3 separate regions of the Homo sapiens genome follow, and all the other regions are linked to region 2. The links come from fine-mapping of genetic effects on gene expression. A gene starts in region 2. Each other region holds a variant in brackets. All regions are shown on one strand. Distances are from middle to middle.

Region 1 (2,766 bases), 220 kb before region 2:
AAGGAAGGGGGAGAGGAAGGGAGGAGGAAGAGAGAGACAGAAATAGAGAAAGAGAGACACACACAGACAGAGGTAATAAACAAGTTTGGAAAGAGAAATAACCTAAAAAACAGAGGAAATTTTCCCCAAATGCTTCACATTATACAAGTGTTTATTAAGACATAAACATAACTTAAATGTTTACTAAATGTTTTTACTTTTTTATATTAAATGTATATTGTTATTCAATGTTTATTAAATAATAAACAATATAATAAACAAAAATGAAGATAGTTGTTGAAGAGGTAGGCTAAGATGTCAGAGGGCTTAATTTTTGCAGCTTTTTAAAAATTTTATAATTAATTTTTGTGGATACATAGTAGGTTTATATATTTATGTGATACATGAGGTGTTTTTTATAGGCAAACAATGTGTAATAATCACATCACAGATAATGGGCTATTCATCCCCTAAAGCATTTATCCTTTGTGTTACAAACAATCCAGTTACTCTCTTTTAGTTATTTTAAAATGTACAATTAAGTTATTCAAAGGGCTTATTTCCTCTTCTTTCTTAATAGCAAATGAACACATACTGACTGAAATAAAAGCAGGTGCTTAGGAAATAATTCCATGCTTTTAATGTTTTCAATAATTTTTGCAGATTTAGTGATTGTTTAGAAAGTTATATCTCACTTTGATAAAACATTTTCCAAAATGCATGTTTTTCCTGCTTCATTTCAATTTTTTGTTTATAAGTTTCAAGTTTCACTAAAAAATACAATGTCACCCCATGTGACCCCATGTTAAATGAAATAATATCTATTAGTCAATCATTGCCAAATAATGCTGCATAACAACACTCTCAACATTTATTAATGACATGGTTTGGCTGTGTCACCACCCAAAAATTTCATCTTGAATTGTAATCCAAACCATAATCCCCATGTGTTGGGTGAGGGACCTCCTGGGAGGTGATTAGATCTTGGGGGCAGTTCCCCCATGCTGTTTTCATGATAGTGAGTTCTCTTGAGATCTGATGGCTTTATAAGTGTTTCTTCCCCCCTTCACTCTGCACTTTTCTCTCCTGCCACCACGTGACAAGAAAGTGTTTACTTCCCCTTCTGCCATGCTTGTAAGTTTCCTGAGGCCTCCCCAGCCATGCAGAACTGTGAGTCAATTAAACTTCTTTTCTTTATAAATTACCCAGTCTCAGGTATTTCTTTATAGCAGAGTGAGAATTAATATAAGTAGCTTCCAACAAGAAGCGTTAATTTCTCACTGAAGGATCTGTGGATTGTCTGGACTCAGTTGGATTTGCCAACACAGCATGGATTGGATTCAAATCTGCTGCATGTTTTCCCCTGGTGATAGCAGAAGTCAAAGAAATCAAACCCATCTGTGCAAGCACATTTGAAGCCTTAATACACATTACAGGCACTTTTTTCACCTTTTGTTCAAGCAAGACATATGACAAAGACTAAATTCAACAAGTGGGAAAATATACTCCC[G/A]TCGCCATTAGGCCGTGGCAAAAGTACAGATGTCAAATATTACTGTATGAGGCAGAACTGAGACCAATGATTCTATCACATCATCCATTTTTTTTTACCTATATTCTTCTATTCATAGAGAGTAGCTTGAAATGACGTACACTGAGGTGACAGAATTTGGGGGATTTTTCTTTTACTTTATTCCTCGTTTGGCGGGAGGGGGAGAAAAACTTTATTTCTTAAATACTACATTATATACAACTATAATTTTTTAAAAGAAAACAGCCTTATTGCGATACAATTCACATATTGAAAAATTCACCCTTTTGAAGTGTATAAATCTTTGGTTTTTAGTATATTCACACTTTTACAACTATTACCACTATCTAATTTCAGAATATTTTCATTACTCTGGGAAAACCTGAGCCCATTAGCAGTCTTTCCCCATTTATCCCCTTTCTGTAGCCCTTGGCAGCACTAACCTAGTTTCTGTGTCTATTGATCTGTTGATGCTGACTATTTCATATAAATGGAATCATAGAATATGAATGGCTTCTTTCACCTAGCATAATGTTTTCTGGGTTGATCCATACTGTAGGGTGTATAAGTACTTCATTCCTTTTAATTACCTAATAATATTCCATTGCTTAGATATACCATACTTTGTTCATCCATTTATCAGTTGACTGATGTTTTGGCAATTTCCATTTTTTGGCTATTGTGAAAAATGTGAAGAATATTTCTGTGCAGAATTTTCAGTTCTCTTGGGTATATGCCTAGGAATGAAATTGCTGAGTCATATTTAGTCTATGTTTAACATTTGTAACAACTGCACATTTCCCAAAGTGGCTGGAACATTTTATAATCTCACCAACAATATACCAGTTCCAATTTCTCCACATCCTCAACAACACTTTCATTTTGTTGTGGTGTCTTTGAAGCACAGATACTTTTAATTCTGATGATATCTTGCTCATCCATTTTTTTTTTTTGTAGTTTGTGCTTTTGGTGTCCTGAGAACCATGGCCTAATACAAAGACACACAAATTTTCTTCTAAATGTAAGGTTTTATCTCTTACATTTAGGTCGTTGATTCATTTTGGGTTAATTTTTACATATGGTATGAGGAAAGGTTCCAATCTTATTCCTTTCCATGTGCATATACTGTTGTCTTCACACCATTTGTCAAAAACACTATTCTTTATCCTTTGAATTTTCTTGTAATTCTTGTCAAAAATCAGTTGACTATACATTTAAGGATCTATTTCTGGATTCTCAGTTCTATTCCATTGATCTCC
Region 2 (2,766 bases):
TTAACAGTCCATGCCAATGAACGCAGCGCACATTTGCATGTAATGAGAGACCAAAGATACCTTCACAGTCTGGTATATATCACATACCAACGCACAATGCCAACGTTAACACACACAGCGAGAAACAAGCAGGGGGAGAATGGGGGAAAGACTCACCGTTCTGTTCCTTGTTGCTGGAAAACTGGAATTTACTACTCAGGTTGGATTCCGCCTGAGTCCCCTGTCTCTGGCCGGCCAGGGCAGATGTCAGCAGGAGAAGCCCGAAGAGGCTCATTTGGCTGACTGGGGTGAGAGCTCACTCACGGCGGGCACTTTGGAAGCAGCGACTCCCGAGTCTCTTTCACCACCGCCAGGGGAAGGCTGCACTGGGGTGGAAGCGCCGAGCCTGCTCTGGCAGCAGAGAATCGCAGGGTAGTTTCCACATAATCCCATCCAAAACTTTTTCCTAGAGCCCTCTTCTGTGTCTCCAGTTTTTGAAAAGGATCAAAGCAAAACCTGGACCTGAACCAGTTTCCCAAGGTTTAAACAAATCCTGAGCTGTGGCGAAGTGGTGGGGGTGGGGGTGAAGGCGAGGGAGGAATGAGGGGGTGGGGACGCGGGGGAGCGGCGAGAAGTCCCCAGCAAGTTGCTGGGAGCACCTGTCAGTTCGGGGGACAGGACAGAGGCGAAAACTCAAGGGTTGCCCGCAGCCAGACTGGAAGCCAAGTCGGCGGCGAGCAGTTTCTGATCAATAACAAAGCTGCCAATAGATGCGGCTCTCCGGGCGCCCCTCTCCCCCGCCCCACCCCCCACCCCCGAAGGGGGAGGGGGAAGAAACAAGGCGAGGGCGCCGCGGCGGGTCCCACGGGCCGGGGCGCCGGAGCGGGGCCGGGGGGCTCCGGGCCGACGGCGGCCCGGGCGCAGGCGGAGAGAGGCCGCGGGGCTCCCGCTCCTCAGCCCGGAGCGCAGTTGGCCCCGGGTTCGGAGCGCCGCAGCACGGATTCCGGCACCTGGCTTGAGTTTTCCGCGACCAAAGTTCACCTTGTTCGGGCTCGTCCCCCGCTCCTCAAAGCCTGGGGCAATTCGGCCGCTCGGGGTCACCGCGGGGCTCCGGTTGTTCCCCGTCCCCTCCCCCCACGCCTCGGGCTCCGCGCTAACCTCGGGGCTACGCGCGGCGTCTCCGCACGGGGTGAAGAGGGAAGGCCGGGGCGGCCGGGAGGATCCGGCTTGTCCCCTCCCCTTCTCTACCTTCCCCCCGCCGGGCGGCAGACAGGAGGTGGGGGCCGTGGGCCGAGCCCGGGCGGAGCGCGCGCCTGGCGAGCGGGGGCGGCTCAGCGGCTCTCCCGCAGGCGGCCGATGGGGCGGGCGGGGGTCAGCGCCTCTGGGAGGGGCAGCCCTGGGACGCGTCCGCGCGAGCGGGCTTGGCCGCCCACTGGCTGTCAACAGGTGCTGCGCAGACAGGGGGTGCTGCGGGACTCGCTGTGGGCAAGACCCCGGTGGCCCAGGAGAGGAACGCGGCCAAGGCGGCCCCTGCTTTCCCTTCCACGGAACACCTCTAACCCCAAATACAGAGCACGATGGGTGGTGAAGGGTGCTGCAGAAGTAAGTGGGAAAGAACTTCCTGCAGCTCTCCTTCTCCCGCCCCCTGTCGCCTGACTTGTCATTAGTTTCCAGGAGGGCTCCCCACTCCCTAAGGTCTTTGCTAGGACCCTTGGCCAGAGTTTCAGAACAGAAGGAAGAAGGGAAATGAATTCAAAGGCTTTCCTCCAATTTCCAGCTCCGTAAAGCAGGACAAATAAAGCAAAAGTAAAGGCAGCCAAAATAACATCCATTTAACAAGTACTATATTTACTGAATGCCTACTATGTCGGGCACTGTTTAGAGGTTGGAGCCGTAGCAGTGAAAACAGACAAAAGTCCCTGCCCTCGTGAAGCATACGTAGTAGTTGGGCAGCATTAAGCTAATAGCAAGCTCTTCTGAGAATGGTGTCTAAGGGACTCAGAATGATCCTGCAACCTTGGACTTTCCTACAATACAGCCTCTAACAAAACTAGGCTGCCCTGAACCCCTGGTGATAGAATTGTTTACATTTACACCAAAAAGGTCGAGAAAGAACTGAAATCTCTTGTGGCTTGTGTTCAGGCTGACTTGGAGAGAGAGGCCGATGCTTTAAGACCTAAAGTTCTCATGAGGTAGTCTGAAATGAAACACACATGCCAAGCAGGGCTTATGGTGGTTCCATGTCTGCTAAATATGTCTGTGACAGGATCCAACGTGCTTTCTTTGTGGAGAAGCAGAAAATCATTGTCAATGTGTTAAAGGCACAAGCAGAGAGTCAGAAAAGTTGAATTTTAAAATGAAGCTATTTTTGAGTAATAATCAAAATGAAAACAAGGAAGTGCCATGGCAGGCAAATCAGCAATATCACCCAACTTCTTGTGGAAAAAAAGTCAATGCAAACAATTCGACCATCAAGAACACTTGGGCTGGAACAGAAAACCAAAATAGCAATGTCCCTGAAACTAAGGAGTGGCATTTGGGCAAGAACATATTCTTACTGGACCAAACCAGGGGCTGATCCTTCTTCAGTGGTGAGGAAAATGCCAAGCCCTCTTCTTATATGCGAACACCAACTGGGGCCAACCAACCAGACCTTTCTGCTTGGAATATCCTAGTCTTCTTGTTTTTCCCTTTTAGAAACCTTTGAAAACTTCACCCATCTGTCTCATTCTTGAAAATTTCACCCGCCTGTCTCATTCATTCATTCTTATCCCTTTACCACTTCTA
Region 3 (2,766 bases), 260 kb before region 2:
TTCTGAGTAGATTGCTTGGGCCATCTGATCCTGCTTGTGCCTAGGACTTGTGAAATCCAGGCTGGAGTGCAATGGTGCTATCTTGGCTCACTGCAACCTCTGCCTCCTGGTTTCAAGCGATTCTCCTGCCTCAGCCTCCCGAGTAGTTGGGATTACAGGCATGCGCCACCGTACCCAGCTAATTCTGCATTTTTAGTAGAGATGGGGTTTCTCCATGTTGGTCAGGCTGGTCTGGAACTCCTGACCTCAGGTGATCTGCCTGCCTCGGCCTCCCAAAGTGCTGGGATTACAGGCATGAGCCACTGCACCCGGCTTCACTTCCTTCTTAAACTGGATTACTGCTTGGCCTGCCTGAACTTATGACTGGGTGGGTCAGAATAATTTTGCTCAAGGTGGGCATCTCTGGCCACATGAAACTGGTCACTTGACGTTCCATGGTTGGAGCTCTAAAAAGGACCATTTCAGTTTCTGCTTTCTGAATAAAATATAGTTTGCTGCTGCCCGGGCCTGTTGCTGAGTTCTTTCCTGCTATAGGCCCCACTCTAAGCTGGCAGCCTTTCATATCTCCTAGTATATGGGTTAGACGAGTACTTCCAAGTACAGGCTATGCTTTCTCCAGAACCTGAAAATATCTACCAAGAATTGCTTTTCTTTTCTGAAAGAAAAGCAATTACCTTTCTTGTGGGAGGTAATAGATGCTAGAATTTGTCTTTTACTTAGGAGGAGATGTCCTGGCTTTCCCTAGGCCACTATGCCCCCTAAACTTTTCACTGACATGACAGGTCCCTGAATAGGGTTTACCTCCCACCCTAAAAAATCCGTGTGTCTTAACACAGTACACACATTTTGCACCCATCTACTATATTAAAATGATGTCCTCAACAGACAGGACCAATGTGATATACCACAGAGTGTCCAGTCTAGGTCCCTTTTGAATGTATTAGGGCAGATACCAGGAAATACAACATAGACCTTGGGCCACACAGTAAATGTATAATATTGTTTGCCTCAAATAAATGCAAACAACTTGTGATCCTTTTTTCTGATAGGGATGGAAAAGAAGGCATTCATCAGATCAGTGACAGCGTGTCATATGGCAGAATCTTTGTTAATCTACATTAGCAAAGATACCACATTCAGCATAGCTGCAATTGAGGGTACTATCTAATTAAGTAAATGGAATTCCATTGTCATCCATCATGACCTATCACGTTTCTATAAAGGCCAGACTGGTTAATTAAATGAGAATAGAATACAGACCACCCTGCATTCTGTGGCATTTACTTCTGCCTTTCCCTCCCAAGATGCAGTATTGGTTTACTGTCTTAGAGAGAAAGAGACAGTTTCAGAGGCTTTCCCACTTCAATTACCCCAGGTATAACAATTGAGAATTCTGTCAACTACCAAATATGCGCATTCCATTAGACATTGTAAAAATGACCACATGGTTTGTCTGTGAACACAGTGGCTCCACTGTGAGCAGGACCTGAGCCAGGATTCCACTTGTTCCCTGGCCGCCCCATGCCCTCATTCTAACAGGAGGGTCATGTTGGGACTTTGTGTCCCTGAATGCAAATATTAAGTCAGACCCTTTTTCCAGTAATCCTGTAAAGCTCGGGTATTTCTCTCTTTGCAATGCACAGTTACATAAGTTAGTGTTTATAAATCACTTTAGGGAAGACTGGGGAATTACTACTGAATACTCTTGCTGCAGTGTTGCAAGGTCCCTGCTCATAGGAAT[C/G]CAGCTTCTCCTTCAGTTAATGGATTCCAGCTCTGAATGTTGGCTCAGGTACAGAAACTGGGGAAGGAATCATGACTTTTTACTGGGGTGGTTACCTGCAGTCTTCTGCTTATTCATCCTTGATTTCTTTTCATTATATAAATGAAGTGGTCAACTTGTTGACTGCCCTTCACTCATGTGTCCAGAATACTATCTCTATACCTCACCAAAGGTTGGGCCCTCTTGGCTGCCACTCCAATCTCATTACTGATCACTATAGTTGTAAACACCTGGCCTTTCCTATTTTGAAATCCTATTATCAGCATTGCCGGAATAAAGGCCAGTTCGGTGACAGCACATCTTACTATCAGTCCTGTCCTAGATAAGGACAGACATCACTGAGCTTCCCAATGATGCTGATGTCACTCTGTGGTAGGATTATTTGTTAAAAAATGAAGACAATGGTATCTGTCGTTCCACATGCTTTTCTAAAATCTGACCTTGTCTCTCTGCCCATCGAGAGATGAGGGCTATGATTCTAAGCAGACTATGACTAAGTAATAGCCAAAAGAATGCAGCAAAAGTGATGATTTCCAAAGTATGACTTCTGAATCTAGGTCAAAAAGGTGATACAGCTTCAAGCTTGACCACTGAAGCACTTATTCTAGCAGGCCTGAACTACCATGTAAGAAAACTGACTACTCTGAAGCTGACATACTGTAAGAATTTAAGCTACATATAAAGTTCATGCATAGAGGCCCAGAAATCCTGATCTTCATATCATCCTAGCTCTGTCTCCAGACATATAAGTGAATAAGCTTTCATATATCTCCAGTACCCAGGTTTTGAGATATTTCCAGCCTTTGGGTCTTCCCATATGAGGCCTTAGACATCATGGAGTAGAAACTAGTGTACTTCTCTCTATAAGCAGAATAAAATGATTGTTTAAGCCATTGATAATATATTTCAGAGCAGTAGTAATCCGAACAGAAATCTGGTCCCTTGGGGGAACTATTCCATAACAAAATTTAGAACATATAGCATTG

Alleles and levels. Positions count from the first base shown, and alleles are read on the strand shown. Sizes are in standard deviations (SD) of each study's normalised expression.
For the expression in non-classical monocytes of the gene that starts at base 1,170 in region 2, G is the high allele of the variant in region 1 and A is the other (large effect, 1.1 SD a copy in Schmiedel 2018).
As copies of G replace C in region 3, the expression in thyroid of the gene that starts at base 1,170 in region 2 goes up (moderate effect, 0.42 SD a copy in GTEx).

Evidence for each region. PIP is the estimated chance that this variant, and not a neighbour inherited with it, causes the effect.
Region 1: its variant is the best candidate, but not a certain one, in a credible set for the expression of PDGFC in non-classical monocytes (Schmiedel 2018, PIP 0.70).
Region 3: its variant is the best candidate, but not a certain one, in a credible set for the expression of PDGFC in thyroid (GTEx, PIP 0.75).

Annotation. Positions count from the first base shown.
Region 1 is chr4:156,754,046-156,756,811 of GRCh38, forward strand. No RefSeq gene overlaps it. Among named protein-coding and RNA genes, the nearest start is that of LINC02272, 110 kb to the left of the region's middle. The variant G/A (reference allele first, on the strand shown) is at 1,490.
Region 2 is chr4:156,970,630-156,973,395 of GRCh38, forward strand. PDGFC (platelet derived growth factor C) reads right to left here and starts at 1,170. Exons shown (of 6, transcript NM_016205.3): 1 at 157-1,170. The coding sequence starts at 274. RefSeq lists an enhancer at 957-1,457.
Region 3 is chr4:156,709,273-156,712,038 of GRCh38, forward strand. No RefSeq gene overlaps it. Among named protein-coding and RNA genes, the nearest start is that of LINC02272, 68 kb to the left of the region's middle. The variant C/G (reference allele first, on the strand shown) is at 1,742.